Regions from separate parts of the Homo sapiens genome. Here all the other regions are reported to be linked to region 1. The links are microRNA targets in miRTarBase. Many come from high-throughput screens and were not tested one by one. Region 1 holds a microRNA gene; each other region holds the end of a gene's coding sequence.
The links. The annotated mature microRNA hsa-miR-3974 reads AAAGGUCAUUGUAAGGUUAAUGC and lies in region 1 at 4,721-4,743, shown strand. An mRNA with a match to its seed (bases 2 to 7 or 8) in the 3' UTR can be bound and repressed. Matches are read on the target gene's strand: a 7mer-m8 pairs with bases 2 to 8, a 7mer-A1 pairs with bases 2 to 7 and ends in A, and an 8mer does both.

Region 1 (8,311 bases):
TAGCTGGGACAATAGGTGTGCACCACTACACCTGGCTAATTTTTTTTTGAGACCGAGTTTCTCTCTAGTTGCCCAGGCTGGAGTGCAATGGTGCGATCTCGGCTCACTGCACCCTCCACCTCCCGGGTTCAAGCGATTCTCCTGCCTCAGCCTCCTGAGTAGCTGGGATTACAGGCATGCGCCACCATGCCCAGCTAATTTTGTAGTTTTATTTTTTTTTTTATTATACTTTAGGTTCTAGGGTACATGTGCACAACCTGCAGGTTTGTTACATATGTATACATGTGCCATGCTGGTGTGCTGCACCCATTAACTCGTTATTTACATTAGAGGCTGGGTTTCTCCATGTTGGTCAGGCTGGTCTCCAACTCCCGACCTCAGGTGATCTGCCTGCCTCGGCATCCCAAAGTGCTGAGATTACAGGTGTGAGCCACCATGCTTGGACCAATTTTTGTATTTTTTGAGATGGGGTTTCACCATGTTGCTCAGGCTGGTCTCAAACTCCTGGACTCAAGCAATCCTCCAGCCTCGGCCTTCCAAAATGCTGTGATTACAGGTACGAGCCACCACACCCGTCCAGATCTTATTTTATATGGGATATTAATGGTAACTTTGTAAAATTGGAGGAAGAAATACCACAGGCAAAGACTACAACTAGCACCCATTAGTTAAATTGGGAATGAGGAGGATCTAAACTAGGAGAATGACAGTGTGGTTTGAGGAAAGGTTATATATGTATAAACAACTTAGTGATAAATTTAGTAGGCGATTACCTGGAAGTTGGAGTAAGGAAAAGAAAATGATATTTACAGCCCATATTTATATTTGGACAATGGTTTTATGAGAGGCAAGTATTACACAGGCAGGAACAATTAATGGGGAAAAGCAAACTTATGACAATTTTGAGACAGTTTTGAAAATATTTAGCAGGCAGTTGGATATAGATATCTGAACTTCATTGCAGATATTGGTACTAGAAATACACAAAGGGGAGTCATAAACATTAGTTTGCAGCTGAAACTAGAAAATTGGAAAAGGGATCTCCATGGAGTGTGTGTGGAGTGAGAATAACCAGAGATCAATCTTGAGGAACATTTAAGGAGTGGGCAGAAGGGCAGAACTCATTGGAGATTGAGGGAAAAAAAAAGTCAAAAAATTTTGTTTCTTGATTACAAAAACAAACAAAAACCAAAAACAGACTGATATTGTCACTTTTCTAGTAGGTTAAGGTTTTTTCTTTTAAATTCCAGTGGGTAATTAGGAAATCACTGGCTACTCTGATAAAATAGTTTCAGGGAAATGATAGAGACAGTGAAAAAAGTTACAGGCTATTAAAAAATGAATGGGAAGTAAGGAAAAAGTATCTTATTTCAAGAAAAGTGCAGGTAAAGGGAAGAGAGGAATCAACACAAATAAAACAGTTTAACTTTCAAGTAAATGTATTTCTAATTCTATTCTTTCCTGGGATAAGGGATTGCTTAGAAAGATTATATGTGTTTGAAAGCAAGGGTAAAGCCAAGATAAAGGAAAAACCATGGTAAGGGAAGAAACAATTGCAACGGATGAAACAAAGCTCTGAAGGACATTTAGAAAATAAAGAACAGATGTCTGCTTGATGGTTGGTCATAAAGAAGAGAAGTATATAATCCTCTCAGAAGGTAAGGGTGGGTATAGAAAATCAGAAGGTGAGGGGGACAGAAGAGCCAGTAATTCATGTTTTATGAAATCAGATTCCCTAATAATATAGAAGTTTGTTTATTAAGAGTAAGGTTGAGAGAGTGGAGAAGCCTTGAGAATAAAGGTAGAACAATTGCTGAAAGAAGTGGAAGGAACAACTGATTGAGAAGGCCAAAGACCTGAGAAATTGACTAGGATCGAATGTACAAATTTGTGGACATATGAATGTTTAAATGATGGCATTTCTCTAGCAGCGTCAAGCCTCTGCATTAGAGTAGAGAAAGTGGATAATGGAATTAACTCAAGATTGACATTTTATCTGTCAGATGTCTGTAAAGGTAAGGATGTAAGGCATTGAGGTTATTGACAAAATAGTTCAGATAATCAGCAACAACAGGACCCAGGCTGAGGAGCGAAGACATCAAGCCTGGAAATGTCTAGCTCAGCTGAAAGAGGGAGGTGGGGTGGAATCCAGAACTGGTTGTTTCTGTAAAGCTGTTTATGGCCAGATAAGTGAGAGTGATCAAGACAAGAGGTTGTGCTTAAAACCTGAGACATCAGTGCTTAAAGCGTGCGACATCAGCACTTAAGGTTCAGATATAGACAGATTTCAGTTCAACTTCAACGTATGGCTGTCGGCTGTGATGAGTTAGGTATTTTTGTGTCCATTTTATGACAAAGCAAGTGATTTGGAGAGGTTACATAATTTATGTTTAAACCACTAGTGGGTATGAGAGCTGGGATTTGACCACAGGTTTTCTGACTTCAGAGCTTCTGTACTTTTATTAGTCCATATCATCCTGCACAATTTGACTTCTCAAGTAATGAAATAGGGATGCATTTTTGCTTTATTCAAGTTTATACTGTTTTAATTTATAAGAGAATCAACATAATTTTGATAATCATTTGTTCTATTTACTTTGTTTTGTTTATAACTGAATATTCCTGATTGGTTGTTTTGGACCTAAGTGTTTGATTTGGGAACATCTTCAAAGATGTTAGTGTCCTTTTCATTTTGAAGATATTTGGCCTAATAACATTTTGTTCATAAAACTGTGTTCAGCCCACCAATGAGTTTAAATTGGTTTCAGAATTACATATAGTTAAATAAGATGTCAGAAGCAAGTAATTTGAGTTCAAATTATGTAATAGCATAGATATGTTTGTTTGTATTTTTTCCAAAAGCCTTGTTGAACTGAGTTACTCAAAGCTTTTCTTGTAGAGTGCCTACTGGTGCTTTATAAAATCACAGGCATCAAATTAACGAGTCCATCCAACTTTCTAGATAATTAGAATGCCCCTCAGCTTAACAGCACAGGGCTGAATCAGAACTATTTTACTGAAGAAGGTGTGAAACTTGTTTTCCTAAGTGGCAAAATAAAAAGTTATTAATAGCGATGCTAACATTCACATTCAGTTTAACTGATTTTTTAAAGTCATTTTTTAGTCTAATCTCCAATGACTTTGAACATAGTTTCCCAAATGTTCTGTTCTTGCATTGTGCCCTTGCATTAAGTTCAGGATTAGTTTTTCTTATCACCATACTTCAAAAACAGAGATCTTAAATATATATCAAATTTGGTCTTGTTTGTGACATTCTAATATTAACTGATGATTTTTATAGCATTGATTTCATATGGCAATGTTTGTTTTTAATTGATTTAGGTGCTGTGTTCTCAGTAAAACTAACTCATTAGAAAAATGTTCTGAAACCTAGTTGATATCTATTTATTCACTTTTGCAGAGGGTTTTTAGCCAAGACACATTCTCCAATTTAAATAAACTTCTTTATATTATAGATTACATCATGTATAAAGAGAAAATGCAAAAACATGGTTAACTTTTACATATTAGGTCATTAAAAATCCATTCTTGCCTTCCTGCCCATTACTACATCTCTTTTTCAGACCTGTCACCCATTTCATTTAAGCACTTAGCTCTCTTCTAATGAATGAATTGGCATTTCATATTACCTTATTATCCTACAAAACAAAATGCATACTCAATAACATTAATGGTAATTTCTCATAAAGACACATTATCGATCCGGGAGCTACCTGTAAGCATTGAAAATTGCAGCCTGCACACAGAGCCTTTCACATCTGGGTCTGAAGAATTAAAGAAAAATTAAATTTGACAGCAGTAAATTCACAGGCACAATCTAGGCTCCAATTTATATGCAAAATGAAATGCTTTATGAAAATTTCTTCTATTTTCTCACGGAGATTTGGAAAAAAGATTTCACTAGGTGCTTCTTTCTTTAATATCCCTCTACTTAAATATTATACTGCAGTCACTGCAGACTCTCTTTGATGTATAAATAATCAAGTTAAATTATGTGCAGCAAGGAGACTAGTGCTCTGCCATTCTTATTTTACAAAGTAATTTCTACCCTAGAGGGTCAAATTTCCCTGACAAATTCTTAATTACTGTGTTGCAACAGAAGCAGAATCTATTTGTGCATAAATCCTGGGCATTCCCATGTGGCAAGTAACTAATATTACCAACCATTTCACTTGGCCTGTTCACTGAACTCCATAATTAGATAATACTTTTGATGATGGTACATTTGAAGTCTTAATCCATTTAATTTTTTATGAGTTTTTTTTTATTTTAATAGGGATATGTTAGTGACCACTGCCTATTTAAAAATCATTAAAATTCTGTCCACAGCAGTAATAAAGATTAAAGATCACTAATATGGCATTCATAACCTTGCTGGTTTTCCAGAAATCCAGGGCTTAAGGTAAATGTTAAAGGTCATTTAATATGTTAGTCACTAATTATAATCCTGGGTAATAGGTTCCTTTTCTAATTATCATGGTATAAAAGTTCTATTGTTTGGGTCTGTGCTTCTGATTTTTGTATTTAGCTTTTTTTTGGAATAAGTAATCCTGGAATTAAGCTCCTGAACATTGATGAAAGTAGGTAATGCTTGATGATTAACTGGATAAAAGCTTATATTTGAATGCTGTATGATATCTTGCCTTGAAGTTACTTACAAAAGATGCAGCATCTTTTTTTCTAGGAATAAGTTCAGGGAAAAGGTCATTGTAAGGTTAATGCACCCATATTTTAATATCAAACTATGACAAATTTGACTACAGCCTTTCCGTACCCCTGCCAAAACATTAAGAAGAAAGCTTAAACAACATGAAACGAGAGGAGGTATTTCTAAAAAGTGGACTAGATTTGGCCTCTTAACCTAATAACAAAAGTGCAAAATTATCCATTTCACTTTGCAATAAATTGCCCACTCCTTGTTTAAACACACATACATACACAGGCATACACATACATCTCGTAAGTTAGAGTAGCTTCCTGAAGAAATCACAAGCTGCCTTCTCAGCTAATATCCTAGGATCATGACAAGCCAAAGCCATGATGGACCAATTGTAACCCATCAGTATTTTGGCCCGTATTTTTCACCAAATTCAGACTATGTTGTTGTTTTCCACTTAGCTTTATATTGGTCTTGAAAGTATTACATATCATCTGCTTATAAAATGTCTGCACTTTGAATTATTTTATTAACATGTATTTTTTCATATTTCAAACATTATTTGCATTTTCTACCTCTTCAGTCATTCATATATACTTCAATCTTTGCATTTGTCCTTGCAAGGAATCTTTAACAAGTCACTAATATAATGTCAATTGTGTCTTAGATTGTTAGAACTTGTAAAAAGCTTTAAGAATATTTTATAAGAGCCCTATCAGTAGTTATACCTTGATTAATTAATTCATAATTATTTATTGAGTATTTGCTGTGCTCCGGACATGTAAAGATTCTTGCTATCATGAAACTTTTATTCCACTGACAGGAGAGACATACAATAGACAGAATAAATAAGTTTACCTCTATTCCAATGTCTCTCTCTATAGTATATATAGATACTATATATAAGTAACTATAGATACTAATGATAGAAACTTTAAAATACTACAAGCAAGAGGAAAACTCAGGAGTAATATGGGAATTGATGATTAGGAATCAGAAAAAGGGTTACTATCTTAATTTGAGTGATCTTAGAAGGACTCTTTGAGAAAGTGACATTTGACCAAAGATTGGCAAGCATTACTCAAGGGTATCAGGTACCCCAGGAAGAGCAGGCAAGTACAAAGACTCTGAGGCAAGAGCATGCTTGGCTTGTTTGAGGAGCAATGTGAAAGTGAGTGGTTGGAAAGAAGGAAAGAAAGTTAGAGTATTTGCATATTTGTTCAAAAAAGTATTGGGCTCCAGGTTACATGTTACCTTTAGGCTCTTGCAGAAACTTTCACCTTTTTTAATTTGTGAGATGAAGGCCATATGAATATTTCAAAAAAGAAGGGACATAAGTCTACTTAGGCTTAAAAATTATAACTGACGTCTGGACTTAAAATCTGCTAATGGGGTTAAAGAGATGAAGCAGAGAGACTAGTTAAGGAGCTTTAAAGATCATCCCATCAAAAGATGAGAGTGGATTGAATCAGGGGATCATTTTGGATATTGAAAGCCAAATTTGATATGTTTTGAAATTAAAGTAAAATAATTTGATAGCTGATCAGATATATGTTATGAGAGAAAGAAAAGTGTCAATAATGAAACTAGAATTTGGTTTTTAGCAACGTCGGTCTCGAAACTAATGTTTATGACTTTAAACTGAGACAGTGAGCCATGTCCAGGTTCAGAGTACCAGCGAATACAACTAAACTTGATGAGAGTTTTGCAAGGAGAGGATAATAAAGTGAAAGAAGGGCACAATTATTGGCAATGTTTGCACAAAATGGTATGTAAGAATGTAGAATTTAGACGGTGTAAGGAGGGTGGTGAGGGTAGGACAATGCACACACATAAGTGCCATAAATAACTATGATAGATATCCCTTTATACTTGGGGGAATGGAATACATGAATGATAAGTCAATCATCTCTTCCACTTGGAGGGCTTTCTTAGACAGGGGCTAGTAATAAGACTGGGGAAATTACAAGAACTCATAAAATCGAGTGTGGAAGCACAGCGTTAAACACCAAGAAAAGAGAAAAGTGGAAAAGCAACTGTACGTATAAGAGTGCTACAACAGACTCCCCAAAAATGAATACTATGAATTATGCTTCCCCAACTGAGATCACAAAATTAACGAAAAGACAAGGGATAGCTGATGCTGGAGGTTGGGTTTACCTAGGGCTGGCTCCATGTTTGTGACCTGTATAGGTACACAGGATCCCACGCTAAGAATGGCCTTGCATTTGGTTCAATCCTCTGCTGCTGCAGTCTTGGGACTTTTAATATTTTGGAACAAGGGTGTTTTGGTAGCGTCCTGCAAAAGGCAGGATAGGTTTAGATGTTGACACACGCGCAGACAGAGTATGAGAAGGTATTACTCTCATTATGAGGGTTTCTGGGGACAGCAGGGTAGACTCCCAAGCAGGTTCAAAATGGCTTGAGTGAATGAGGGGAATATGGCTTTGGTTTCTGTTGTGATTCAGACATGCTGGGAGGAGAGCCTCTGCATAGGAGCTGGATTAGCCTGGTTTGATCATTCTCATCTGGTGACAAAGAAGGGAGTGACAGCTTTCTTATGGGCTTGTCCCACTATGGGGCTTGAAAGCTGTGAGTAATTAAACATAAAAACATGCAGTCAGATGCTTTATTAAAAGGGGTCCCTGGGATTCCTCCTTGCACTGGCCCCACAGATGATGTAGTTGGTCCTGATGTTATGGAAGCAGATTCTGAGACACAGTTTGGGATGCTAGATGTATATTAGGGAGTAACTACTGTGAAGGGAAGAGAGGAATTCAAAATGGAAGGAGGAAAACGTCCAACTGCTATACATTCATTCACCCATTATCAACATTCCCTACATGGGGACATATGGCCACACATGTATATGGCCATGTGCTTGTCAGATACAGAACTGTGCAGATTTTCAAGATGGGGAGCAAATTATTTTCTGAAGAAGGACCTTAGCAGACTCATCTCTACATCTCCCAGAGTTGGGTATATTCAGTGTCTTGAAATTTGTCATAGGTTTTAGATGCAAATTAAAATAGTTTGAGTTTTTAGGGGGTAAATTAATAATAAATAGGTCTGAAATAAAGGCTTCAGAGGCATCCAAATTAATTGGGCACCAGACAGGTCACAGGATTTATTGTCAAAGAAGTGGCATTCAGATTTCTCTCCATCAACTATCAGATATGTGACTTACTAGATATAAAAAGTTTAGTCTCTTTGAATGTGAGTTTTTTAAATAAAGATAATGCTGTTACAAATTGATATTTTTTGAGGAATAACATTTGAAATAACTGTTGAAAAGTTTCATACAAATATTAGTCATTTTTCATATTAAAAGCACTAAACTATAAACGTTGTAACATATAGTTAGGGTGACCAAAAGTCTATGTTTTTTTTTTTTTCCAGTGGAAGAGAGTTTTCTAATTTGAGTTGATTATGTCTTAGTGTGTTTTGCCCTTCCTGTTAGGAACCTTCTCTTTAATAGCAAACTTTTAGTCATGCCAAAAGTAGCATACCCATCAATAATTACTAACTAGTGTATCTGTTTTATTTAACAAATTTAACCAAGTTATCTGATGATCATCAATAGAAAAAAAATAAAGTTTTAAATTGGTCAGTGCATATTTCTTACTCATTTTA
Region 2 (8,311 bases), not on the chromosome of region 1:
GATTCAGCATTTAAATTATGACATAAGCCCTAACCTTCTAATCACGTGGTTTAGCTTTCTGGAGTGGCCAGACCTTAACCTGAGTCATCTCTTCAGGATAAACTGTGGAGGACTCCATAGTGAGTTCCCCGTTTGCATAAACTGTCAGATAGGGCCATTGGGTCCCACCATAAGTAAAAACATTTTGGAACTACTCAGTGTTTACAGGTTACTTTCCATGACTTCACAGGAAAAGCGTACTTCTCTTTGGGGATTAATTTTTGTTACTCACTTCCTGTCTTCCATGTGGGCTCATTAGGTGCTCCTTCCTCGTGTTCTTGTAGCAACACAGCATGTCCTTGCTTAGTTGCTTACAGGAAGCTTACCATGCACGGTGTCGTCGTTACTCTGTCTACCCAGGTCCAATCTGTAATTGTGAAGGTGGCTCCACGAACAGACGCATTGTCTCCTGACCCAGCCTCTGCCCCTAGGTCTCCCATGCAGAATATCCCGAGTCCAAGGACCAGGATAGAAAGAAATTGCAAACCCAAGAATTTGAGATACAGAAAATAGCAACACAGAGGCAATATTTTTATCTATGGTTTTTCACAGAAATGGTAATATTCTTTTTTCCATGTTGTCCTTTACTAACAGGCCCTTTTGTGTGCTGGATTTCTTTCAGGCGACAAAGGAAAACCTAAGACCACAGAACCTACCACTTGTGAGCCAGCCTTGTCAGAGGGAATCTCACTTCAGGGACAAGTGACACAAGGAAACTCAGTGGACTCACAGTTGGGGCAAGCCGAGGATCAGGATGGGCTATCAGAAATGCAGGAAGGACACTTCAGACCAGGAATAGATCCCCAGGAGAAGTCTCCTGGGAAGATGAGCCCTGAATGTGATGGTTTAGGGACAGCTGATGGTGTGTGTTCAAGGATTGGACAGGAGCAAGTCTCTCCAGGAGATAGAGTCCGTAGCCATAACTCATGTGAGTCAGGTAAAGATCCCATGATTCAGGAAGAGGAAAATAACTTTAAATGCAGTGAATGTGGAAAAGTATTTAACAAGAAACACCTCCTTGCTGGACATGAGAAAATTCACTCTGGAGTTAAGCCCTATGAATGCACAGAATGTGGGAAAACCTTTATTAAGAGCACACATCTCCTGCAACATCACATGATCCACACTGGGGAGAGGCCCTATGAGTGCATGGAGTGTGGAAAGGCCTTCAACCGCAAGTCATACCTTACCCAGCACCAGCGGATTCACAGTGGAGAGAAGCCTTACAAGTGCAATGAATGCGGAAAGGCCTTCACCCACCGCTCCAATTTTGTCTTGCATAACAGGAGACACACTGGAGAAAAATCCTTTGTGTGCACAGAATGTGGCCAAGTCTTTCGACATAGGCCAGGCTTTCTCCGGCACTATGTTGTCCACAGTGGTGAGAATCCCTATGAGTGCTTGGAGTGTGGCAAGGTCTTCAAACACAGGTCATATCTCATGTGGCACCAGCAGACTCATACCGGGGAGAAGCCCTATGAGTGCAGTGAATGTGGGAAGGTCTTCTTGGAGAGTGCAGCCCTGATTCACCACTATGTCATCCACACTGGAGAGAAGCCCTTTGAGTGCCTCGAGTGTGGGAAGGCTTTCAACCACCGATCCTACCTCAAGAGGCACCAGCGGATTCACACTGGGGAGAAGCCCTTCGTGTGCAGTGAATGTGGAAAGGCCTTCACCCACTGCTCTACTTTTATCTTGCATAAAAGGGCCCACACTGGAGAAAAGCCTTTCGAGTGCAAAGAGTGTGGGAAAGCCTTTAGCAATCGGAAGGACCTCATTCGCCACTTCAGCATCCACACTGGAGAGAAGCCCTATGAGTGCGTGGAGTGTGGAAAGGCCTTCACCCGCATGTCGGGCCTCACGAGGCACAAGCGGATTCATAGTGGAGAGAAGCCCTATGAATGTGTTGAGTGTGGGAAATCGTTTTGCTGGAGCACAAACCTCATTCGACATGCCATTATCCACACTGGAGAGAAGCCCTATAAATGTAGTGAATGTGGAAAGGCCTTCAGTCGCAGCTCGTCCCTCACTCAGCATCAAAGGATGCATACTGGGAAAAATCCCATCAGTGTAACAGATGTGGGAAGACCTTTTACAAGTGGACAAACCTCAGTTACCCTTCGAGAACTTCTTTTAGGGAAGGACTTTTTGAATGTAACCACTGAGGCAAATATTTTGCCAGAGGAAACATCTTCCTCTGCATCTGATCAACCATACCAAAGAGAAACCCCACAAGTGTCTTCACTGTGAGAAAACCTTCTGTTGCTGAATATTACTTGTCATCTGAAGAGTCATATTAGAAATTCGTTCAGTCTAGAGCCTTATTCTCCATCTGATAATTTATCCTGGAGAGAGACCCAGTGGTTATTGTGCACATAGGAGAACCTTCAGCTGCATCTTTCTCCTTAGTTTACAGTGCAATTTTATCTCAGGAATTATTTTTAAAAGGAGGAGGGGACATAGAAAAAATGAAATGCAAGCACACATCTTTTCAGGCTTCTCTGCCAAGCCTATGGCGCTTTGTCATGGATTTCTTAGTGTATTTGGGGGAAGGGAAATGTTTCAAGGTAAAGAACCTTGACCCTTTATGTGCTTGTATGTACATTTATTGCTATCCAGTGTCAGAACAGTTAGTTTAGGAAAAGTATGCAAACTTTAATCGCACATCTTCTGTATTCCACAATAGTACTTACTCTTGAGAAGCATAACTTTATGACAACTTAGGGGGCTTGAGCCATGAAATACTCACGTTTAAGTCAGTAAGGATACACATGTTAACATTCAGGCTTTTGTCTTGATGCCCGTCTTTTGGTTTACGTCATCATTGTAGCCATATGGTAAATTTTTATTTGTTAAATTTTTAAAAATTACTTAGCTCAAAATGTCAGTGGTAAATTTTTAAATTGAGTAAAGTGATTCTTCTTTGCTCTTATTTAAAATCGACAGCATTTCTAGTTCCTTTGACATTCCATATAATTTTTAGGATTAGTTTGTACTTATTTACAAAACAGTCTTGTTCAGATTTTTACAGAAATTGAGTTAAGTCTGTGGATTAATCTGTTAAGAATTGGTATCTTTACTATGTTGGGTCTTGTAGTTCATGAGTGCAGGAGTAGGCCTCTTAATTTATAATAGTTAAGCATTCCTTAAAGTATTTCATTAATGTTAAAAATTTTCAGCGTATAGATCCCTATGCATTTTTGTTAGAATTTGCATCCTAGGGTGCTTTTTTGTTTGTGTGTGTGTGTAATTTGAGTGATTGTAAATGGCATTGATGTTTGAACTTTGAATTGCACACAATTTTTGGTAGTATACAGAAATATAATATTTTTGGACATTGTTTTGCTACCCTGCAACCTTATTGAGTTCACTTATTATTTTTAGCTATTTCTTTCGACAGAATCCTTGGAATTTTCTATATAGAAATGTCATCTGCAAATACAGACCATTTTTTATCTTTCATCTTACCTGTAATATACCTTTTATTTCCTTTTTGTTTGTCTTATTGCATTGCACAAGCTGGGACTTCCATTATAGCGTTGAATAGGAATAGTGAGAAAGGCCATCCTTACCTGGTTCCTGATAGTAGGGGGGACAATGTTCAGTTTTTTGTTTTTTTGTTTTTTGTTTGAGACAGGGTCTCGCTCTGTCACCCAGGCTGGAGTGCAGTGGCACGATCTTGTCTCACCATAGCCTTAAGTTCCTGGGCTCAAGTGATCCCCCCACCTCAGCCCTCACCACCCCCCAGTAGCTGGTACTACAAGCATGCACCACCAGTCCCAGCTAATTTTTGTATTTTTTGGTAGAGACAGGGTTTCACCATGGTGCCCAGGCTGGTCTTGAACTCCTGGGCTCAAGCAACCTGCTTGCCTGGGTCTCCCAAAGTGCTGGGATTACAGGCGTGAGCCACAGTGCACAGCATGTTCAGTTTTTCATCATGAAGTATAATGTAAGTTTTATAAAACATATGTCCTCTATAAGGGTAAAAAATTTCCTCTGTTCCCAGTTTTCTGAGACTCTGTGTTGCTATGAATAAGTGTGGAATTTTGTTCAGTACTTTTTCTCCACCAGTTGATGTCATTATGCTATTTTCCTTCTACATCCTATTGATGGAATGTATTGCTTTGATCAAGTTTTGAATATTGAGCCAGCCTTGCATCCTTAGAATAAACCATACTTGTTTGTAGAGTATAATTGTTTTTATATATCATTTGACATCATTCCCTTTGTTTGTATTTTGTTGAGGAAATATTCCTCTAATTTATTGGCTAATAATGTGTAGTTCTTTTTTCTTTTGTTTCTTATGTTCTAAATGTCTTATGTGTGGTTTTGATGTCTAGGTGATCTTGACCTTTCAACATGAATTGGAAGGAGTTCTCTTCTAATTTTTGGAAGACTGTGTAGAATTGGTGTTATTTGTTCTTGTCATGTTTGATGACCTCTAGTCAACCATTGGGCCAGAGATTTTTCTTCTGGAGGCTTTTAAATTACATATTTATTTTATTGGATAGGTAGAACTATTCGAAGTATCTATTTCTTGTGTAATAAATTTTGATAGTCTGTCCTGTTGAAGGAATATTTCATCTGTATTTGTAGCACTCCCTTATTCTTTTGATAGCAGGATCTGCACTTCTTTTTATTTTTAATATTTAAAATGTGCATACTCATTTTATGATTGAGTCTTCTTAGACATTTATCAGTTTTATTGCGCATCATGCTGAAAGATGTAATTTTTGCTTCATCTCTCACTTCAGAGAACTAGCACTTTATATTAATGATTTGTCTCTATTCTTGATTTCTTTGATTTCTGCTCTGATCGGTATTATATTCCACTTGCTTTGGTTGTATTTGGCTCTTTCTAACTTTTCAAGGTGGGGTTTTAGATTATTGATTTGAGATTTTTTTGCTTTTTTAATGTAAGCATTACATTGTATAAATTTACCTCATATCACTATTGGTTTGATCCCACAAGTTTTAATGTTTTCATTACATTTTAATTCTAATAGTTTTTATTTTTTGAGACATTCTCTCTTAGCCATGAATTATTTAATAGTATGCTTAATTTTCTGGTGTTTGGCATATTTGTTACTGATTTCTAATTTGTTCCATGTTTGATCTGACTGTTTAAATGTGTTAACATTTTTTTATGACCCAGGATAGGGTCTATCTTGTTTCGTATAGCTGCTTGAAAAGAATGGGTGTTCTGCTGTTACTGGGTGGAGTTTCTATAAATGTCTCTATGATCCTGCTCATTGTTATTCAAGTCAGCTATGTCCTTGCTGATTTTCTGTCCAGCATTTCTGTCAGTTGCTGAGAGGGGTGTTGAAGTCCTGAACATAGGCCGGGTGCAGTGGCTCACGCCTGTAATCCTAGCACTTTGAGACCACTAAGGCAGGTGGATCACCTGAGGCCAGGAGTTCGAGACCAGCCTGGCCAACATGGCAAAACCCTGTCTACTAAAAATACAAAAATTAGCCAGGCATGGTGGCGTGTGCCTGTAATCCCAGCTGCTGGGGGGCTGAGGCAGGAGGATCAGTTGAACGTGGGAGGCAGAGGTTGCAGTGAGCTGAGATCTCACCACTGCACTCCAGCCTGGGCAACAGAGCGAGACTCTGTCTCAACAACAACAACAAAAAGTCCTGAACATGATTGTGGAAGTGTGTTGCTCTTTCAAGTTCTATCACTTTTTGTTTGCAAAGTTCAAAGCTGTATTGTTTGGTACATATACATGTAGGTTTGCCAAGTCTTTGTGGTGAATTGACTCTTCTGTCATTATGTGATGTCATTTTTTTGCCTTTTAATAGTCTTGTCAATACTTTACCTGATGTTCTCATAGTGACTCCTGCATATTTTGATTAATGTTTGCATGGTTAATATTTCTTCATTTTATTTTAAAGCTTACCTGTATCATTACTTATGAAGTCAGTTTCTTTGAACAGCATATACTCAGGCCATGCTTTTTTTATTCATTCTGCATATGTCTCTCTTAATTGGTATGTTGAAATGATTTACATTAAAATAATTATTGATATTTTAGGGCTTAAGTGTGCCCTTAAATGATTTTTGTGTTCTTTTTTATTGTTCCTCTGTTATTTGGGGTTGTTTACTAGTCTTCCTATAGGTTACTTCACCTTTTTTTTTTTTAATAATTTGATTTGATACATATGTAGTGTTTTTTAGTATAGATCCTCCTTGACTTATGATGGGGTTATGTCACAATAAACCCATTGCAAGTTGAAAATACTATGTCAAATATGCATTTAATACACCTACCCTGCTGAACATCATAGCCGATCTTGCCTTCAGAATGCTCAGAAAATTTACATTAGCCTGCAGTTGGGCAAAATCATCTAACACAAGGCCTACTTTATAATAAAGTTACTGCAAAGAATTTTAAATAAAAATTCAAGTGTGGTTTCTACTGAATGCATGTCGCATTCGCACCATTGTAAAGTCAAGTAGTAAGTCGAACCATCCTAAGTCAGGGACTGTCTGTATATATCTGCATTTTTTAGTGATTGTTCTACTATTACAGTGTAAATATATAACTTATGACAGTTTAATAAGTTATCAGCAATTTAGCACTTTACTTCCATTAGGTTCCTTTAGCTTACCTACTAATGTAACTATCTTAAGTAATAGTAATTCCTCTTCAAAAATTGAGCGCTATGTTGCAAGATGTAATTTTTCTTTTCCTTTTTTTTGAGACCAAGTCTCACTCTGTCACCCACGCTGGAGTGCTGTGATGCGATCTCGGCTCTCTGCAACCTCTGCCTCCCGGGTTCAAGCAATTAACTGCCTCAGCTTCCCTAGTAATGGATTACAGGCGCCCGCCACCACGCCTGGCTAATTTTTGTATTTTTAGTAGAGACGGGGTTTCACCATCTTGGCCAGGTTGGTCTTGAACTCTTGACCTCATGATCCACCCGCCTCGGCCCCCCAAAGTGCTGGGGTTACAGGTGTGAGCCACTGCACCCGGCCACAAGATGTAATTTTTACTTTATCTCTCACACGTATTTTACAAAACGTCATGAGAAACATTGTCTCTTGACCTTTTTTTTTTTTTTTTTTTTTTAAAGAGACAGAGTCTCACTCTGTCACCCAGGCTGGAGTGCAGTGGCACGATCTTGGCTCACTGCAACCTCCGCCTCCTGGGTTCAAGCGATTCTCCTGCCTCAGCCTCCTGAGTAGCTGGGATTACAGGTGTGCGCCGCCACACCCAGCTAATTTTGTATTTTTAGTAGAGACGGGGTTTCACCATGTTGCTCAGGCTGGTCTCAAACTCCTGACCTTGTGATCCGCCAACCTTGGCCTGTCGACCTCTTTACCCATTCCATTGTTCATTCTTCTTTCTTGAAATCCCAAACCTTCTATTAACATTTCTTTTCAGTTATACACTGAACTTTACTGTAGCCTTTCTTCTAGAGTAACAAATGTTCTTTGTTTTCCTTCCTCTAAAGATGTCTTTATGTTTCCTTCATTCCCAAAGAATATTTTTGTGGAATATAAGATTCAGAGTTGGCAGTTGTTTTCTTTTAGACTTCAGAGATGTATCTCTCTGTTCTGTACATTATTGTTTAATATAAGAAACCTACTAGCATTCAAATAATCATTCCCTATTTTACAATGCATCAGTTCTGTCAAGCTTCATTCAAAGTGTTTTTCATTGTCTCTAGTGTTCAGAAGTTTGGCTGTGATGTGCGTGGCATGGAAGTTTTTGGGTGTATTCTATTTGGCGCTCCCTGGTGCTTGCCCAGCTTTTTGATCTGTAGGATTATGCCTTTTGCAAAATTTGGGGAACTTTCAACTATTATTTCTTCAAATATTTTTTCACCCCCCAGTCTTGTCTTTTTTAGGGACTTCAATAACATGAGTGGCAGATCTTGTTTTACACTCCCATGGGTCCTTCAGGCTCTCATCTTTTTTCTTTTTCCAGTCTATTTTCTGTCTTGTTAATATTGATTAATTTTTATTGACCTTCCATGGTCCTCACTGATTGTTTTCTTTGTCATACCTAATCTGTTGAGTTTGTGCAGTGAGTTTTCATTTTGGTTTTGTATTTTCCAGTTGTTTAATTTCCATTGGGTGGGTTCTTTTGTACACCTTCTGTTTCTTTGCTTATTTTTTAACGCCAAAGAAAGACTCTCAGAGAATAGACAACTATATTCCAAAGTCATGGTTCTCTGGTGGTTTGTCTTGACATTTGAATAGAAATGTTAAACTATCTGGGGGAATAGAAAGCCCACAGTCTTCTGAGTTGTGCTACACCAAT
Region 3 (8,311 bases), not on the chromosome of region 1:
AAGCAGGGACGATGTTAGGCTGGGGCCATGAGGCAAATTGGAATCCAGGAGACGTCCTGTCGCCAGCCCTCTGTCCCTCCATCCTAGGAAGACTGCCCGACCTCTGTGGGGAGAGTGACATGCTGCTGGTGACTTTTGCAAAGTAGCCAAGGCTGTTTGCCGGTTGGTTTCTTCTGACCTTGGCGGGAACTGTCTCAGTTAAGCTGGAGGTCACAGCAGGCAGGAGAAGGGCCGTGAGCACTGTCCGGACGTCCTCATGATTGTTTATGCTTTCTTGGTGTGCAGATTCCTTTGGCTGCCGCAATATTTTCCGCAAAACCTCAGATTCCAATTGTGTGGCTTCTTCTTCCATGGAGTTCATCCCCGTGCCACCGCCCAGGACCCCGAGGATTGTGAAGAAACCGGAGCCCCATCAGCCAGGGCCCGGAAGCACTGGCATCCCCCACAAGGAAGACCCCCTGATGCTGGACATGGTGCGCTCCTTCGAGTCTGTGGATCGCGACGACCACGTAGAAGTGCTGTCTCCCTCTCATCACTACAGGATTCTGAACTCCCCGGTCAGCTTGGCTCGCAGAAATTCCAGCGAGAGGACGCTGTCCCCGGGTCTGCCATCCGGAAGCATGTCGCCTCTCCATACTCCTTTGCATCCAACTCTGGTCTCTTTTGCTCACGAAGATAAGAACAGCCCCCCAAAAGAGGAGGGCCTGTGTTGCCCACCTCCGGTTCCCAGCAATGGCCCCATGCAGCCTCTGGGGAGCCCCAATTGTGTGAAAAGCCGAGGCCGGTTCCCTATGATGGGCATCGGACAGATGTTAAGGAAGCGCCATCAGAGTCTGCAGCCATCTGCAGATAGGCCCCTGGAGGCCAGCCTGCCCCCACTGCAGCCCCTAGCCCCTGTGAACCTTGCCTTTGACATGGCCGATGGGGTCAAGACCCAGTGCTAACTTGGGCCAGCGGGGTTTGGGGTATCTCTAGAAAACAGCAACTGAACAGAGCTCCACACATCTGTCAGGGTGTGAGCACTCCAAGGCCTCGCGTGGAGCATCCTTAGTCCCACCTGTAGCTGAATCCACAGACCCAAAGCCTGCACAACCCAACCTCGCTTAGGGACCCCCAGAGATGCTGGAATCGCTAGGAGGGTTGGCTCCAGGGGCAGCCAATTCCTATCATTCAGATCTTCCTTCCTCCCAAGTACTCACCAACCCCTTCCACTTCCCACTTCCCCCAGGCTTGGGGGGAAAACAGGGCATGAGCCTTCTGGGGCACTCAGATTATGGACTGTTACCAGATCTTTCTTCACGCTGTGCTACATGTGTGCCTCTCACAGCAGTTGGCCACAGTTACAGGGAGAGAACAATATCACAGTCATTCATCCAGGCCACGTTTCCTCTGCGGAGTGTAGCAGCCCTGCCTTTCATAGCAGGGATTACCTGAAGGCCAGCAGGAGCCGGGGGCAGGCCCAGGATCCTCAGAGGAAGATGGAGAGGAGCTTCGGACCAAGATCAAACCAAACAGTGGGGACCCCAACAGAAGAGAAAGACTGAAGGAGACACTCATTTCCCAAGCAAGATTTTGATAGATTTTTGTTGTTGTTGTTGTTGAAACATGCTAATGATTGAATTATCTTTTCCAAAGATTTTTTTTAAATGTGATGTCGGTAAATTGAAATAACATAATTTTTTAAAACTTGGATGGAGAGATGAGAAGCAATTCCACCAAACTCATGTTTTCACAGGAGGGTTCAGTGTGGAGAGCAAAAAAGCTGACTGTGGTGATTTGCTGAGTGCTGTGGCCCACAGGCAGGGCAAGTCTCGGTGGCCCTGTGTTCATCCTGTTGTTTAAGGCATAGCCCTGATCCTTCTGGAAGGCATAGAACACGGTTACAGCTGGTTCTGTAGAAAGAGGGAAAAGATGATTGTGACAATTCAGAGCATAACTCAGATGGCGAGAAGGCAGCATTATCTCTGTGCGATGCTGATTTCAAGCTGCCCACAGAACTGGTGCGGCTCAGAGCTCGGCGAGTTTGCTGGGAGCTGGGAGCAGGCTTGCCTGGCAGAGAACCTGTTCAGATACAGGCCAGTTTCTTCTTCGAGGAAAGCCAAGCTCCTCAAACAGGGTTCAGTCCACGTTGTGTTTTCACACCTTTCTCCAAGGATCGAACCAAAGATGTGTCTCCAGTATTGTGTCTGTGCCCCTGTGTGTGTTTTGTGGACAGCCGTGTTGTCTGACTGTATCCAGCTGGCACTTGACAGGGTGCAGTCATTGGTGAGAAGAATCAGAAAAAGAAGACCCATCAGCACAGGTTGGATAGGGGTTAGTGTAGGAGACCAGTTACAGAATGGCCTGGAGTCTTCAACTTTTGACCGGTGCAGGTGTGACCAGAGACCACCTCTGTGGCCACCTCAGATAGTCATCTCAGTCCAAGGATCCCAAAACACAAATCTAGAATTGCAAAGCCAGCCTTTATTTCCCTGGCAGGCAGCCTTGCCAGAAGGCAGAGAGGCAGTTCTGAATCATTCTCTCATTCACCAGTGGTGACATCCTTCAGTCCCTCACATCTCTGACAGAGCGGGACAGAATGGATATTTGGCTGACCTTGGTGAGACCTGGAGCTGCCTGTTTCTTCCCTAGGGGATCACCACGGCTCTAGGGCATTCTAGGATGAGGTCAGACCCCTTGGCCATTGGTGTTATTTTTTGTATAGCTTCAGACTGGGTTCCAGAACTTACCATTGAAAACAGAGCTTTTAGGCCAGGTGTGGTGGCTCACACCTGTAATCCCAGCACTTTGGGAGGCCGAGGCAGGTGGATCGCTTGAGCTCAGGAGTTCGAGAGCAGCCTGGGCAACATGGTGAAAGCCCGTCTCTACCGAAAAATACAAAAAAAAATAGCTGGGTGTGGTGGTACGTGCCTGTAGTCCCAGCTACTTCGGGGACTGAGGTGGGAGGATCACTTGAACCTAGGAGGTCGAGGCTGCAGTGAGCCAAGATCATGCTACTGCACTCCAGCTTAGGTGGCAAAGTGAGACCCTGTCTCCAAAAAAAGAAAATAGAGCTTTATAAGCAGAGAGAAGAAAATAATCATCTAAGACCATCTCTCCATTCGACATGAAGTGTACCTTTTCTAAAGACGGTTTCCAGCTGCAACGGCTCCACTTTGCAGGCTTGCAGGGTGTATACCTGCGCATTGGGAACTTGCTGGAACCCCTGATGCATTTTCCTTGAGAGCAGGGGTACTTCCGCCTTGCCGTTAGCTTGTGGAGAACGTGCTTCTTATTCCTGGCAGGCTTCAAGAACAGCTGCACATGTGCCGCTAACTGACCGCGTTGCCATTGGCGACCTGGACTCTGAACTCAGGTTTATTCTAAACCCAGTGAGAGGTGAGGGGGAGTGATGAAAGGGGATCAGCTGTATTTGTGTGTGTGTGTGTGTGTGAGCACCTGACAAATCTATGAAACCGAGTGAAAGGAGAAATGTTAGATTCTTTATTATTTTATTATATTTATATGGAAAGCTCGACTCTCCCTTTGGTAAGTCCGAAGCATGTTGTCTGTTCGACCGTGACTGTCTTCCTCAGTCTGTGCCTGTGATTCCAGTCACCCTGTAGTTACTGACAGAAATTGACTGGACTGTCATTGTGTGAAGTCTAGGAGGAAATGTCCATTTTAATTGTATGATTTGGTCATAAGTAAGGACTATATTTATGTCACCATTATTAGATATATGTACTTTTGTAATGACTGTGAAATACACTTTTCCCTCACTACGACTGCTTCTTTATTTGCTGATAAATCTTAAAACAACTAAGTACGTTGCAAATAATAGTACAGGTACCATCTTTTATGTGAAGTTCTTTTTCTTTTTTTGAGACAGGGTCTTGCTCTGTCACCCAGGCTGGAGTGCAGTGGCACAATCACAGTTCACTGCAGCCTCAACCTCTCCAGATTCAAGTGATCCTCCCATCTCAGCCTCCCAAGTAGCTGGGACTACAGTTGTGCACCACAATGCCTAGCTAATTTTTTTTGTATTTTGTAGAAATGGGGTTTCGCCATGTTGCTCAGGCTGATCTCAAACTCCTGGGCTCCAACGATCTGCCCACCTTGGCCTCCCAAAGTGCTGAGATTACAGGCGTGAGCCACTGTGCCTGGCCTTATGTAAAGCTCTTGACCTAGCATCTGACTGGAAACAAGCGGGAATTGCATTGGGGGGCATTTTCTGGGCCAGTTTCCCTGCCTTATTTTACCTGCAATAGGTGTGCCTACAAAAGTCTTTCTGACATACACACTGCAGGTGGCAGTTCAAGAAGAATCAACCTTTTTCATTTGGGGATATTAGGATCTTCCTTGGAGACTCTGAAAATGGCACACAAAGAATGGCAGTTATGAACGTGACTTCTAGATTTTGTCCTTGTAGGAGGCCTTGGTCATGGATAGGGGAAGAGGGATGATGGGATGGAATGGGAGGGTGGGATCTAGATGACCTCTTGAAATTGTCCCAGTTACTGCTTCCTTCATAACTGTTCACAAAACGTTTTTCATATATACCACCTTGTTTCCCCTGGGAAGTGAGGGGACGAAGCCTTAGAGGGTGACATAGCTAGAAAGTGGAGAAGCTCACTGTTCACTGTGCAAAGCCCCAGTAGTCGGATTCCGGGGAAAAGAACAAGTATCTAGTTTTGATGACAATGTTTTCTTGTAAGAATCCCAACACTTTAGAATAGAAAAGGACCTAAGATTCTCTGGCTCAGCCCCAGCCTTTCTGAAGAAGGGAAAACTAGGGACCCAGATGGTTTAAGGACACCCCAGAGTCCCCAGATGAGCTGGCATTTGAGCTGGTCTGGAGCAGAGTTTCTCCCTCAAAGAACACAGAGAAATCAGAGAGTGGCTGCCATGGTCAGAGGGGGATGTCAACAACAGATCAAGCCGTCATCACAACAGGTATTTCTGAAGTTCCTGCAGGGACTAGGTCTTGCATTTTTAAGTCCTTTTCAAAACTGTGCAGCTTCCTGAACCTTATGCTGTTTGTCCCATCCACTCTTGAAGCTGGGGAAAGACAGCTTTCTTTGGGAACTCTGTCTTTCTCAGTTGACTTCCCAAGTAAGCAGCAAACCCCTGGATAGCCTTGTTATCTACTTTAGGTATTAAGAGGCTATTGGGTTTTACTAGATTAAATCAATAAAACATTTCCTATAGAGCCATATCATACACTGAAGCAAATTCAGAAAGAATGCAAAACTGCTATCTTTTGGGGGAGTCTGGAAGCCTGTTGGTTAGTGTATTTATTTTCTTTGTGGGGTCTTCTGTGAGCTACAGGCACAGTAAGAATAATTCAGAGCGGTACTGGGAGTTGGTTCAATTTCATGTCATCACTTTTCAATGAAGGGAGTGCATTTCCTGAGTAGTAAATGAGTATATTATTTGTGGCAGCTTTTCTGTTAAGGGAGCTTTCCAGACATCTGGTTGCAAAGACAAATAGGATATATATTTGTACTTCTTCTCTGTGGACATGTTTTTGTGACACACAGTTATCTCTAGGAGTTGACGTCTGTGGGCACTAAGGGACTGAGGTTGGGGGAGAAAGCTGAGGAGGCTTTGGAAGAGAAGGTGAGGAGCATTTCAGGATTTGCAGTCCCCCTCCACATGTATCCACATCTGAGCTGGTGGTGTTCCAATAATGAGGCATTTGGGGCAACCAATTTTGGAAGGATAGAATAGCTTTATGTGGAGCAAACTTGAGGATCAATTGGAGTTGAGTGGTTTAAAACTTAAAGATGGCACAGGAAGCTGTATCATTTACAGGTGAAAAAAATAAATGGGTCTGACTTCAGGGCCTCAGCTCTTTGTATTTCCTACTTGGAAGATGGGCTATTAGCAATTTTGAAAGCAAAGGCTTTGGTTTACATTTAAACTCTATAATTTTTTTTAAAAATGTGTTCTTTCTAGTCTTGTTACCATAGCCAGCTGGAAAGGGCAAATTGCAAGCCTATATTGGGAACAAGTCTTCTTGCCGAAAGTAGGGCAGTGAAGTTCTTGGCAGATCTGAGATGAGAATGCCTTCCCCTGACTCCTTCATCAGTGTTCAGTGCTCACCTCCTCTGGCAACCAGTATGCTAGAAGATTAGGCTTTGCTATGATCACAAATTAATTCCAAATCTCTGTGACTTGCCCAATAAAGGTTTATTTCTTAAAATATTTTTATGAGGCTGGGCTGACCACAAAACGGCTGTCTTCCATATGGTGACTCAGGGATCCAGGCTACATCCAACTTGTGGCTGTGTCCCCTCAAAATGAAACGTCTTTGGCTGCTCCAGCACAGGAAGGCACGGCTGGAGAGTTTTCCACCAGCCCTTAAACATTCTATGAGGGGACTCATCACTTCTCCCACAGCCCATTGACTGGAACTGGTCACACTGCCTTGTCTGTGAGCAAGAGGCTGGGAAATACAGGAGCATAGGGCTACTTGGGATGCAGCTAATGTTTCTCCCATCTTAGGGAAGGTACAGCTGCCTGCCATTTATTTGTTCTTTGTTTTTGTTTTTGCTTTTGTTTTGAGATGGAGTCTCCCTCTGTCACCCAGGCTGGAATGCAGTGGCGCAATCTCGGTTCACTGCAACCTCCACCTCCTGGGTTCAAGCGATTCTTGTGCCTCAGCCTCCTGAGTAGCTGAGACTATAGGCACATGCCACCATGCCCAGCTAATGTTTGTATTTTTAGTAGAGACGAGGGTTTCACCGTGTTGGCCAGGCCGGTCTTGGACTCCTGACCTCAAGTGATATGCCCGCCTTGGACTCCCAAAGTTCCAGGATTACAGGCATGAGCCACCGTGCCTGGCCGAGATGCCTACCATTTAAAGGTACCCCAAAACTGGACTAGCCTTTTCCCATTGTCACACAATTATAGCACCTCTTAGTAAAGAGTTACTTTTTTAAAATAAAAGAATTAGCATTGGTAAATGTTAATATTTAAGGAGAGTGTTTTGGGCTGAATTCTTTCCTCCACAAATTCATATGTTGAAACCCTCAGCCCCAGTACCTCAGAATGTGACTACTTAGAGATAGGGCATTTAAAGAGGTGAGTAAGTTAAAATGAAGCCTTTAGGGAGGAACCTAATCAAATCTGACAAGTGCCCTTATAAAAATGTGAGGTCTGGGCTGGGCGTGGTGGCTCATGCCTGTAATCCCAGCACTTTGAGAGGCTGAGGTGGGCGGATCATGAGGTCAGGTGTTTGAGACCAGCCTGGCCAACATAGTGGAACCCCGTCTCTACTAAAAATACAAAAAATTAGCTGGGCGTGGTGGCAGGTGCCTGTAATCCCAGCTACTTGGGAGGCTGAGGCAGGAGAATCGCTTGAAGCTGGGAGGCAGAGGTTGCAGTGAGCCAAGATCGCGCCACTGGCACTCCAGCCTGGGCGACAGTGCGAGACTCCATCTCAAAAAAAACAAAAAAACAAAAACAAAAAAAAATGTGAGATATGGATACACAATGGGACACCAGACGGAGGAAAGACCAGGTGAGGACACAGAGAAGGCAGCCTCAGGAGTGAAGCTTCAAGACGAACCAGCTCTGCTAAAACCTTGATCTCAGACTTCCATCCTCCAGAACTGGGAGGATATAAATGTCTGTTGCTTAGATCCCGGTGAGGTATTTCATTACAGTAGCCCAGGCCGACTAACACGGGGAAAAGGTCAGATAGTAAAATTTACATCTTCTAGGAATCTCATATGTTTTGCCCCATATGCCAAATTTCCATTTATCCTTTTCTGACTAAATCACTCCCAGAAAATTTCTCTTTTTTGGAGTGAAATTCCACCCTCTCCTCTCCTCTCCTTTTCTTTTCTTTCCTTTTCGAAGCAGAGTCTCACTCTGTCACCCAGGCTGGAGTGCAGTGGCGCGATCTCGGCTCACTGCAACCTCTGCCTCCTGGGTTCAAGCAATTCTGCTTCAATCTCCTGAGTAGCTGGAACTACAGGCATCCGCCGCCACACCCAGCTAATTTTTTGTATTTTAGTAGAGACGGGGTTTCACCATGTTGCCTAGGCTGGTCTTGAACTCCTGAGCTCAGGCAATCCGCCTGCCTTGGTCTCTCAAAGTGCTAGGATTACAGGCGTGAGCCTCTGTGCCCAGCCTGAAATTCCACCTTTTCTAAGTGTTTCTTGTGCTTTAAGCTCAGTGTGCCAATTATTTTCAAGTTTCTTTCTTCCTTTAATCCAGAGGTCTGCAAACTTTTTCTGTTAAGGACCAGAAAATAAATATTTTAGGCTTAGGAGATGACTGTTGCATATTAGTCTGTTGCGTATTACTCTGCATTGTTTTT
Region 4 (8,311 bases), not on the chromosome of region 1:
GTGCTCGTGACCAAAGGCGAGAACTTCTCCGCTTGGTCCACTTATGGTTCAAAGTTATGGAAGAAGAATGTGGGTCTTTCAAGGAATTCTGAGCTCTACTTGTATTGCTGATGAAAAATTGCATATGAAATATAAAGCAGTGTCATTTTTTGGTAACTCATGCTTATGTTTCTTTCACAATAAACGTTTAACATTTTCAGATGAATTTGCAAATGTTTTTCTTTTGCTTTGCTGTAAGATCAAGTAAATGTGTTATGGAGGTTATAAACTATAATAATATAAATTGACCCCCAAAATTAATTCACTTACTAAATGACAAGGAAACACTGCCTGTTAAACTGATAAAAGTATCTGCCTGTATTTGTTCAGTTTTACCCAACAACTGGAAAACACACATTCATCTCCAGTATACATTGAACATTCGCTAGCATAGACAGATGTGGCCATAAGACAAATCACATTGACATGAAAATTGAAATAATATACACGCTGTTCTCAAATGCCAACAGAATTAAATTATAAATCAGTAACAAGAAGAAATCTGTAAAATCTCCACATACATGAAAATTAAACAACCACTTTAAAATAAAACACAAATCAAAGGTGAACTTATAAAGGAAATTATAAAATACCTTACACTGAGTGAAAGTAAATGCACAATATCACAAAATGTGCAGATGTAGTTGAGGTTTAGAGGGAAATTTATAGAAATAGACACTTATAAAATCAAGGAAAATACCCTCATCCATGATCTAGCTTCCTTTTTTTTTTTTTTTTTTTTTTTTTGAGACAGAGTCTTGCTCTGTCGCCCAGGCTGGAGTGCAGTGGCGCGATCTCGGCTCACTGCAAGCTCCGCCTCCCGGGTTCACGCCATTCTCCTGCCTCAGCCTCCCAAGTAGCTGGGACCACAGGCGCCCGCCACTACGTCTGGTTAATTTTGTGTATTTTTGTTTTTTTTTAGTAGAGACAGGGTTTCAGCATGTTAGCCAGGATGGTCTCGATCTCCTGACCTCGTGATCCGCCCGCCTCAGCCTCCCAAAGTGCTGGGATTACAGGAGCAAGCCACCGTGCCCGGCCGGTCTAGCTTCCATTTTTAAGTGAGCAAATGCAGTGGCAAATTAGGTAAAAAACAAAACAAAACAAAGACTACAGTAGTAGTCAATGAAATAGAAAATGGATAAATGTTAAATAAAATTTTAAAAATTCAAGACACGTTTTTTCAGGATCAAAGTAGTAAATCTTCAGCTACAGTGAAGGAGTGAGGAAGGGGTGAATTAAAACAATGAGTAAGCAAGAGAAAAGGAAGACAGGGCAAAATCAAGAGAGGCAGAGAAAGAAGAGACAGAGCCCATCGTGATGGCTCAAGCCTGTAATCCCAGCACTTCGGGAGGCCGAGAAGGGAGGATTGCTTGGACTCAGGAGTTTGAGACCAGCCTAGGCAACAAAGCAAAACCCCATCTCTACAAAAATAATAATAAAAAAATTAGCTGGGTGTGTTGGTTTGCACCTGTGGTTTCAGCCACTTAGGAGGCTGAGGTGGGAGGATTGCTTGAGCCCCAGGAAGTTGAGGCTGCAGGGAGCCATGAGCCATGATCATGCCACTGCACTCCAGCCTGGGCTACAGAGTGAGACCCTATCTTCAAAAACAGAAAAGAAAATGTAACATATATACACAATGGAATAGTATTATCCATAGAAAAGAAGAAAGTTCTGTCATTTGCATCTACAGAAATGAACCTGGAATACACTATGCTTAGTGAAACATACAGCCACAGAAAGAGAGATATCACGTGATCTCATTCACTTGGAGAATTTTAAAAAGTGATCTCACAGAACTAGAGAGCAAGACCGGATGCAGTGGCTGACACCTGTAATCCCAGCACTTTGGGAGGCCGAGGCGGGCGGGTCACCTGAGGTCAGTTCAAGACCAGCCCGGCCAACATGGTGAAACCCCGTCTCTACTAAAAATACAAGAACTAGCCAGGCATGGTGGTGCACGCCTGTAATCCCAGCTACTCGGGAGGCTGAGGCAAGAGAATCGCTTGAACCCGGGAGGTGGAGGTTACAGTGAGCTGAGATTGCACCATTGCACTCCAGCCTGGGGTACAGAGTGAAATTCCGTCTCAAAAAAAGAAGGAAAAAAAAGAACTAGAGAGCAAAATGGGGTTACCAGGGGCCGGGGCTGGGGCTGGGGCTGGGGCTGGGGCAGTGAGGTGGGAGGGTTAGGGAATGGTTGGCCAAGATACACACAATTTCAGCTAGACAGGAGAAATAAATACAACATGGCAACAATAGTTAATAATAATATTCTTGAAAAATGCTAAGGGAGGCAATTTTCAGTGTTTTCATAAAAAACATGACAACTTTTCGAGGAAATGCATATATTACCTAACTAGATTTACCCGTTTGGTAACGCATCTACATTGCAAAACACCATGACATACACAATCATTACATACAATTATTCTGATAATTTAAACAAAACAAGAATCAAACTTTACATGCTCAAGATGTTCCGTTTTACCTCAGTGAGATCTCAAAAAAATTTTTTAATAAAAAATAGTTCTGTTGAAACTCTCTTGTGAATTTTCCTTTCAGTTGTTGTACTTTATTGCCCCTAAATTGCTCACTGGTTCCTTCTTAAACTTTCTCTTTATTCATGTTCTCTATTTGATGAGGAGTTATTCCTCTGGTTTATTTTTGTTCTTCTGCCCTTGATTTTCTTGAGTTCTTTGCACATATTTAAGATAATTAATTTAGTATTTGGAGAGGAAGCCCAATGTCTTGGCTTGCTCATATGCTATTTTTTCTTACGACTATTATACTGTCTTGTGTGTGTGCCTCATTGTTTTGGTAAGAAAAAGTGGACACTGTGTGTGGCAAACCCTGGACATCAAATTCTCACCCCTGAGCAGGCTTTCTTGTTGCTGCTGGTTGTGAGTTGGAGTCTTCTGTTTTTGTTTTCATTTTTTGTTTTGTTTGAACCTTTGTAAACTACTGTGTAAAGGTTTCACTTTCTCCTGTGTGGCCACTGAAGTCTCTGCCTTCTGGTCTACTAACAATTTGATGGAGATTTTTAAAACATGCCTGAACGCAAACCCAAAATTCTCTCAAGCTCTTTGCCATGGGATCCCTCTAGGGAGCTTAGCCAGGATTTTGATTTTTTTTTTTTTTTTTAGACGGAGTCTAGCTCTGTCGCCCAGGCTGGAGGGCAGTGGCGCGATCTCGGCTCACTGCAACCTCCACCTCCCAGGTTCACTAGCCAGGATTTTTACAACTCTCATTTCAGCCTTCATTTCCTGCTTGCATGGAGCCTCGGGATCATCAGAGGTAAAACATAGGGTTTCTCAGATTTTTATAATCTTGCATGGACATGTATGATTGAACTCAATCCTTGGTATACCTCAGTGCTATTCAAAGCCCTTACTATCTCATGTAATTCTCCCCCCAGACTCTTCCTTAATAGGCTTTTCATTCTGTCATCTGTTTTCCCTGTTATCCCTCACCCAGGCAACTTCAGCAAGTGTATTTGTCTTTAAGTGCTTTTAATGACACTGGCACCCCCCAATAAATCAGCTTCAGTCTGTGTAGATCTAAAAAGGGTGAAATAAAGGCAAGCCCTTGAGCCAACCCTTCAAGGAACCACTAAGATAGATGGAGGCACACAACCACAATTCTTTGAGAACAAAGATTCTTCATCCTGTGGCATCAGCGTGCTGGCCTGGGAATGAGGGACTCCATGTTCTCAGCAGCCATCAAGCTGCAGAGTGGGGAAGAGTAGGTGGGTGAGTCAAATTACCACAACTCAGCTGGGTGCAGTGGCTCACGCCTGTAATCCCCGCGCTTTAGGAGGCCGAAACGGGCGGATCACCAGGTCAGGAGATCCAGACCACCCTGGCCAACATGGTGAAACCCCATCTCCACTAAAGATACAAAAATTAGCTGGGCGTGGTGGTGGGTGCCTGTAATCCCAGCTACTCGGGAGGCTGAGGCAGGAGAATCGCTTGAACCCGGAAGAAGGGGCTTGCAGTGAGTCGAGATCATGCCACTGCACTCTGGCCTGGTGATAGAACAAGATTCCACAAAAAAAAAAAAAAAAAAAAAGCCACAACTCTCTTCCTGAAATTAAGCAGCTTCTTCCTTCACTCACGGTTCCCCTGGAGGTTGTAAATTATTAGATTCAAATTTTCCACAAAGGCTGATTTTGACAGTTATTTCCCAGTTTAATTTTTGTTTTACCAAAGACTACTTTTAAAATTCCCTACCTTGAAACTTGCAGTGAGATCACTCCATTAATTTTAAACAGAATTTTAAAATTCTGATATTATTGCTCTATATGCTCTAAATAGGGCTTTTGTCTATTTGTAGGAATGCTTCCTCTCAGTGCAAATTATCTAGAATAAAGAAGGGAAGTCTGTTTCTCCAAGGAGAGGCACAGGAGGCAGGGCTATATAGGTAACCTGGATGACAAATTACAATATGCCATGGAGTATGTGGACATTGAAGATATGCAATATTGAGGTGGGAAGATGGCTTCAATGACTTCAGAATTTTCAGTCATGGGAAAACAAGAGGTTTCCTTAAATTGTGATAGCCTGGCCGGGTGCAGTGGCTCACACCTGTAATCCCAGCACTTTCAGAGGCTGAGTTGGACGGATCACTCAAGACCAGCCTAGGCAATATGGTGAGACCCCTTCTCTACTAAAAGTACAAAAAATTAGGGGGGTATGGTTGCATGCATCTGTGGTCTCAGCTACTGGGGAGGTTGAGGTGGGAGAATCACTTGAGCTCAGGAAGTCGAGGCTGCAGTGAGTTGTGATCGTGCCACTGCATGCCAGCCTGGGCGACAGAGTGAGATCCTGTCTCAAAAAAAAATTATCTTATTTTAGAAACATGTCAGAAAAATCAAAGAACAAGCCCAGTTGAAACTACAGTAAGATCCTTTGATTCACCTTCAAGGTTTCTTTCCACAGCTGATTATGACTTGATTCTGAAATCAGAGTTTTGAAAAGGAACATAGAAAACACTTTTAGCCAGTTATTCTGCTAATCATCAGAATCTTCACATCATGTCCAGAAGTTGCATTTATCAGAAGTGGCTGAGGAGGTTTTGCATTGGGAATCAAATATTCTCATCAGAGAAGCCCCAGACTCACTGAGGCAATGTCACTGAGAGATACTACAGATGACATGATCGTGACATCTCTGTGGGGAGATCAGGTCCAGGAGCCTGTCTCTAACTAAGGACTCAGGTGCCCCAGCTTATGGTGACTGACACATCCCTGTACAGAGCTTGTTGCCAAGACCACCCCAGTGAGTGCTTCTGTACATTTAGAGCAAAAGGCAGAACATAAAGATCTCAAACAGGAGAAGAGCTCAGAGCTGAGGGTGAGCAATAGCATTGGGCAAAATAGGTTTACCCCTGCCTGGCTCTGAGCCACACCATCCATGCCCCGGCTGGACCAAGACAGTGGCACATTAAGCCAGGTGCTTGGCTTGAGCTCCTGGCTCAATGTGGGACCAGAAAGCTCAGGTTTACTGTATACCCCTGTGTCCTAGAAACACTGTCAAAGGGAGAAATTAGGACAGTTCTCCTTAGAAACTGAGCCAAGGATCACTTGAGGTCAGGCGATCCAGACCACCCTGGCCAACATGGTGAAACCCCATTTCCACTAAAAATACAAAAATTAGCTGGGCATGGTGGTGGGCGCCTGTAGTCCCAGCTACTCAGGAGGCTGAGGCAGGAGAATCACTTGAACCCGGGAGGCAGAAGGCTGCAGTGAGCTGAGATCACACCACTGCACTCCAGCCTGGGCAGCAGAGCGAGACTCCATCTCAAACAAAAAAAAAAAAATTTTTTTTTCAGCACGTAAAGACCCTAAAACCTACCCACCTTGAGTAGGTATCCTCTCACCTATGGAGGCCTATTAGGTACAGCAACCAGATGCTTAGCAATGGGGCATTGTAAATACAGTGTCAGGGTTGGAAACATTATCAGAGGATGCCCAGTTCAACTCCCTCTTCTGAAAGAAGGTGAAAAGGAGACGCTTTTTCTGAGGCCACACATATCTGACATTTCTCCACAGCTTAGAGAAGTCACCCTTCATCCCATGGAACACACACAAGTTTGTGAGCGGAGCTGGCTAAGAGCAGGGGAGATACGGAAATGAATGCCAGTTACGGTGTTAGGTAGATCCGGGAAGAACATGGTGCAGCAGGAATACGAAGTCAGGAGGGAAGGTGAGATGAGGATTTCATTTCGAAGGATTCCTAGGGACACCTTCTAACAACTCTCCCTAGACCAAAACAAAAACAAAAACAAAAACAAAAACAAAACCCAGAAAAACAAAAACAAGAAACAAACCATGAAAGGATCATAGTTTCTTTAGTGTTACTCCACCGTGCCCACTGATGAAACAATCATGCTTCACAGCTTTTTCCAATGCATTTTATCCTTTATTACTTCATATAATCCTTTTAATACTCTTGAGACAGTGTAGGAATTTGAAGTGGTTGACTGGATCAAGGTCACACACACACACACACACACACACACACACACACACACACACACATCAAATAGGAAAATTATAGTCCTAATTCTCTTGCATCCCAGTCACGGTAGTAATTTATAATAAATACTGTTTACGTACAACATGATCAAAGGGGTTGCCTAGATGCTGTATTTGACGTTCTCATGGCTGCAGACATTCTGGGAAATTTGAAAAACATGTAATCCAAATTAGAATTAGGTATTATTGAACCTGGCTGAGAAGCAGGTGTCACACCAATTTCTCTGCCTTCCTTTAAAGACCAAGTTTCAGACAGAAAGATCAAACTGGGTTTTCTTTCCTTTACAGTCATCAGCAACTGCTGGGTTTGTGTGTTCAGGCCAGTTAATGGAAGCCTGAAGGAAAACAGAGAGAGAACGCCGTTAATGCTACATGTGAGGTCTCAGCTTTGTTGCATCAATGACTAATTCCCCATATGGCATCCTTTGGGTATTCTTGGGAGTATCTCAAGCCATCTCTGAGGAAACAAAAATCTGTTCCAGACTGAAAACCGTGAGATAGCGATTTCTCCATTAAATATTAGAATGTAAGACAAGATTTCCACTGGGAGAACTGTTTGAAGTAATATTAGTAGTAACCAACGCCACTACGTGCTCAATGCTTTACATGCATCTCACATTACATCCTCACAATGGGTAATGGCATTCAAGACTTTATAGGTTCCAATACTGAGGGTCAAAGTTTCCAACTAAAATATGTTTACAGGCTGGACGCAGTCCAGTCCCACGTCTAATCCCAGCACTTTGGGAGGCTGAGGCAGGCAGATCACTTGAGCTCAGGAGTTTGAGACCAGCCTGGACAACATGCCAAAACCCCATCTCTACCAAAGATACAAAAACTTAGCCGGGTGTGGTGGTGCGTGCCTGTGGTCCCAGCTATTTGGGAGGCTGAGGTGGATTACTTGCACCTGGGAGGTCAAGGCTGCAGTGAGCCATGATCACACCACTGCTCTCCAGCCTGAGTGACAGAGCAAGACCCTAACTAGAAAAAAAAAAAATTTACATAGCTAGAGAACAGAGGCACACTTACACCGCAGCCCATGCTCATGTTTCTTTCTCCAAATCAAAGAGGAGGATTCAGCCACTTATTTTGTGCCCTCTCTGCATGTGAGTGTCCCAATTAGCATGTAGGCACAAATACCTTTATAACCTGAAATATGGTCATTTCTGCAGTTTAGTTTTTTTTGAGCACCTATAATACTGAAGGAAAAATATCCCTGGCATCATGGAGCTCATGTTCTAGTGGAAGGAATTAGATAATAGAATAAATACATTATACATTTGAAGGTGAGAAGAGCCCTGGGGAGGAAAAATAAAGAGAATAAGCAATTTGGAAAATTTGTAATGTTTATGGGTTTTTCTATGCATCTGAAAGTTTGACTCAATATCCATATTTATGAAAAAATTATCACTTAGAGATGACAAGGGAAAACAACTCATAGTAGGGTCTCCAGCATAGAGTCTGTGATCTCATTTAATCTTTAAGAGTTCTGAGATAATTATCACCATTTTCCATTTGAGAAAAATTGGACATGAGTGGGAAATGAGTTGCCCCTCCTGTATTTTATTAATGGGTCATCCGGATGCTTATACTTAGTCTCTAATTGAATGCTCAGTAACCTGAATATGATTTTCCTTTAAATAAGGCAGGTAGAAACAGAATGCTAGATATTGCCAGAGCTTTCTACACACGTGACAGTGTGAATGGAAGCTGATAGGCAGCTTCTAAATGGCTTCTAAC

Region 2: the mRNA of ZNF264 is a reported target of hsa-miR-3974. Seed matches in the 3' UTR shown: 7mer-m8 at 4,387-4,393, 7mer-m8 at 7,088-7,094, 7mer-m8 at 7,326-7,332 and 7mer-m8 at 8,013-8,019.
Region 3: miRTarBase lists HUNK as a target of hsa-miR-3974. Seed matches in the 3' UTR shown: 7mer-m8 at 2,592-2,598.
Region 4: the mRNA of NLRP11 is a reported target of hsa-miR-3974. Seed matches in the 3' UTR shown: 7mer-m8 at 6,524-6,530.

The regions. Positions count from the first base shown.
Region 1 is chr12:17,668,588-17,676,898 of GRCh38, forward strand. It overlaps MIR3974 (microRNA 3974), which reads left to right and starts at 4,712; the gene lies at 4,712-4,807. All of the region lies in intron 1 of LOC124902889 (a long non-coding RNA gene), which reads left to right. RefSeq lists an enhancer at 3,334-4,814.
Region 2 is chr19:57,210,693-57,219,003 of GRCh38, forward strand. ZNF264 (zinc finger protein 264) reads left to right here. Exons shown (of 4, transcript NM_003417.5): 4 at 662-8,311. The coding sequence ends at 2,289. Among named protein-coding and RNA genes, the nearest start is that of AURKC, 16 kb to the right of the region's middle.
Region 3 is chr21:31,998,241-32,006,551 of GRCh38, forward strand. It overlaps HUNK (hormonally up-regulated Neu-associated kinase), which reads left to right. Exons shown (of 11, transcript NM_014586.2): 11 at 286-5,824. The coding sequence ends at 944. Among named protein-coding and RNA genes, the nearest start is that of LINC00159, 84 kb to the right of the region's middle.
Region 4 is chr19:55,778,966-55,787,276 of GRCh38, forward strand. It overlaps NLRP11 (NLR family pyrin domain containing 11), which reads right to left. Exons shown (of 10, transcript NM_001394894.2): 10 at 6,434-6,906. The coding sequence ends at 6,660. Among named protein-coding and RNA genes, the nearest start is that of RFPL4AL1, 14 kb to the left of the region's middle.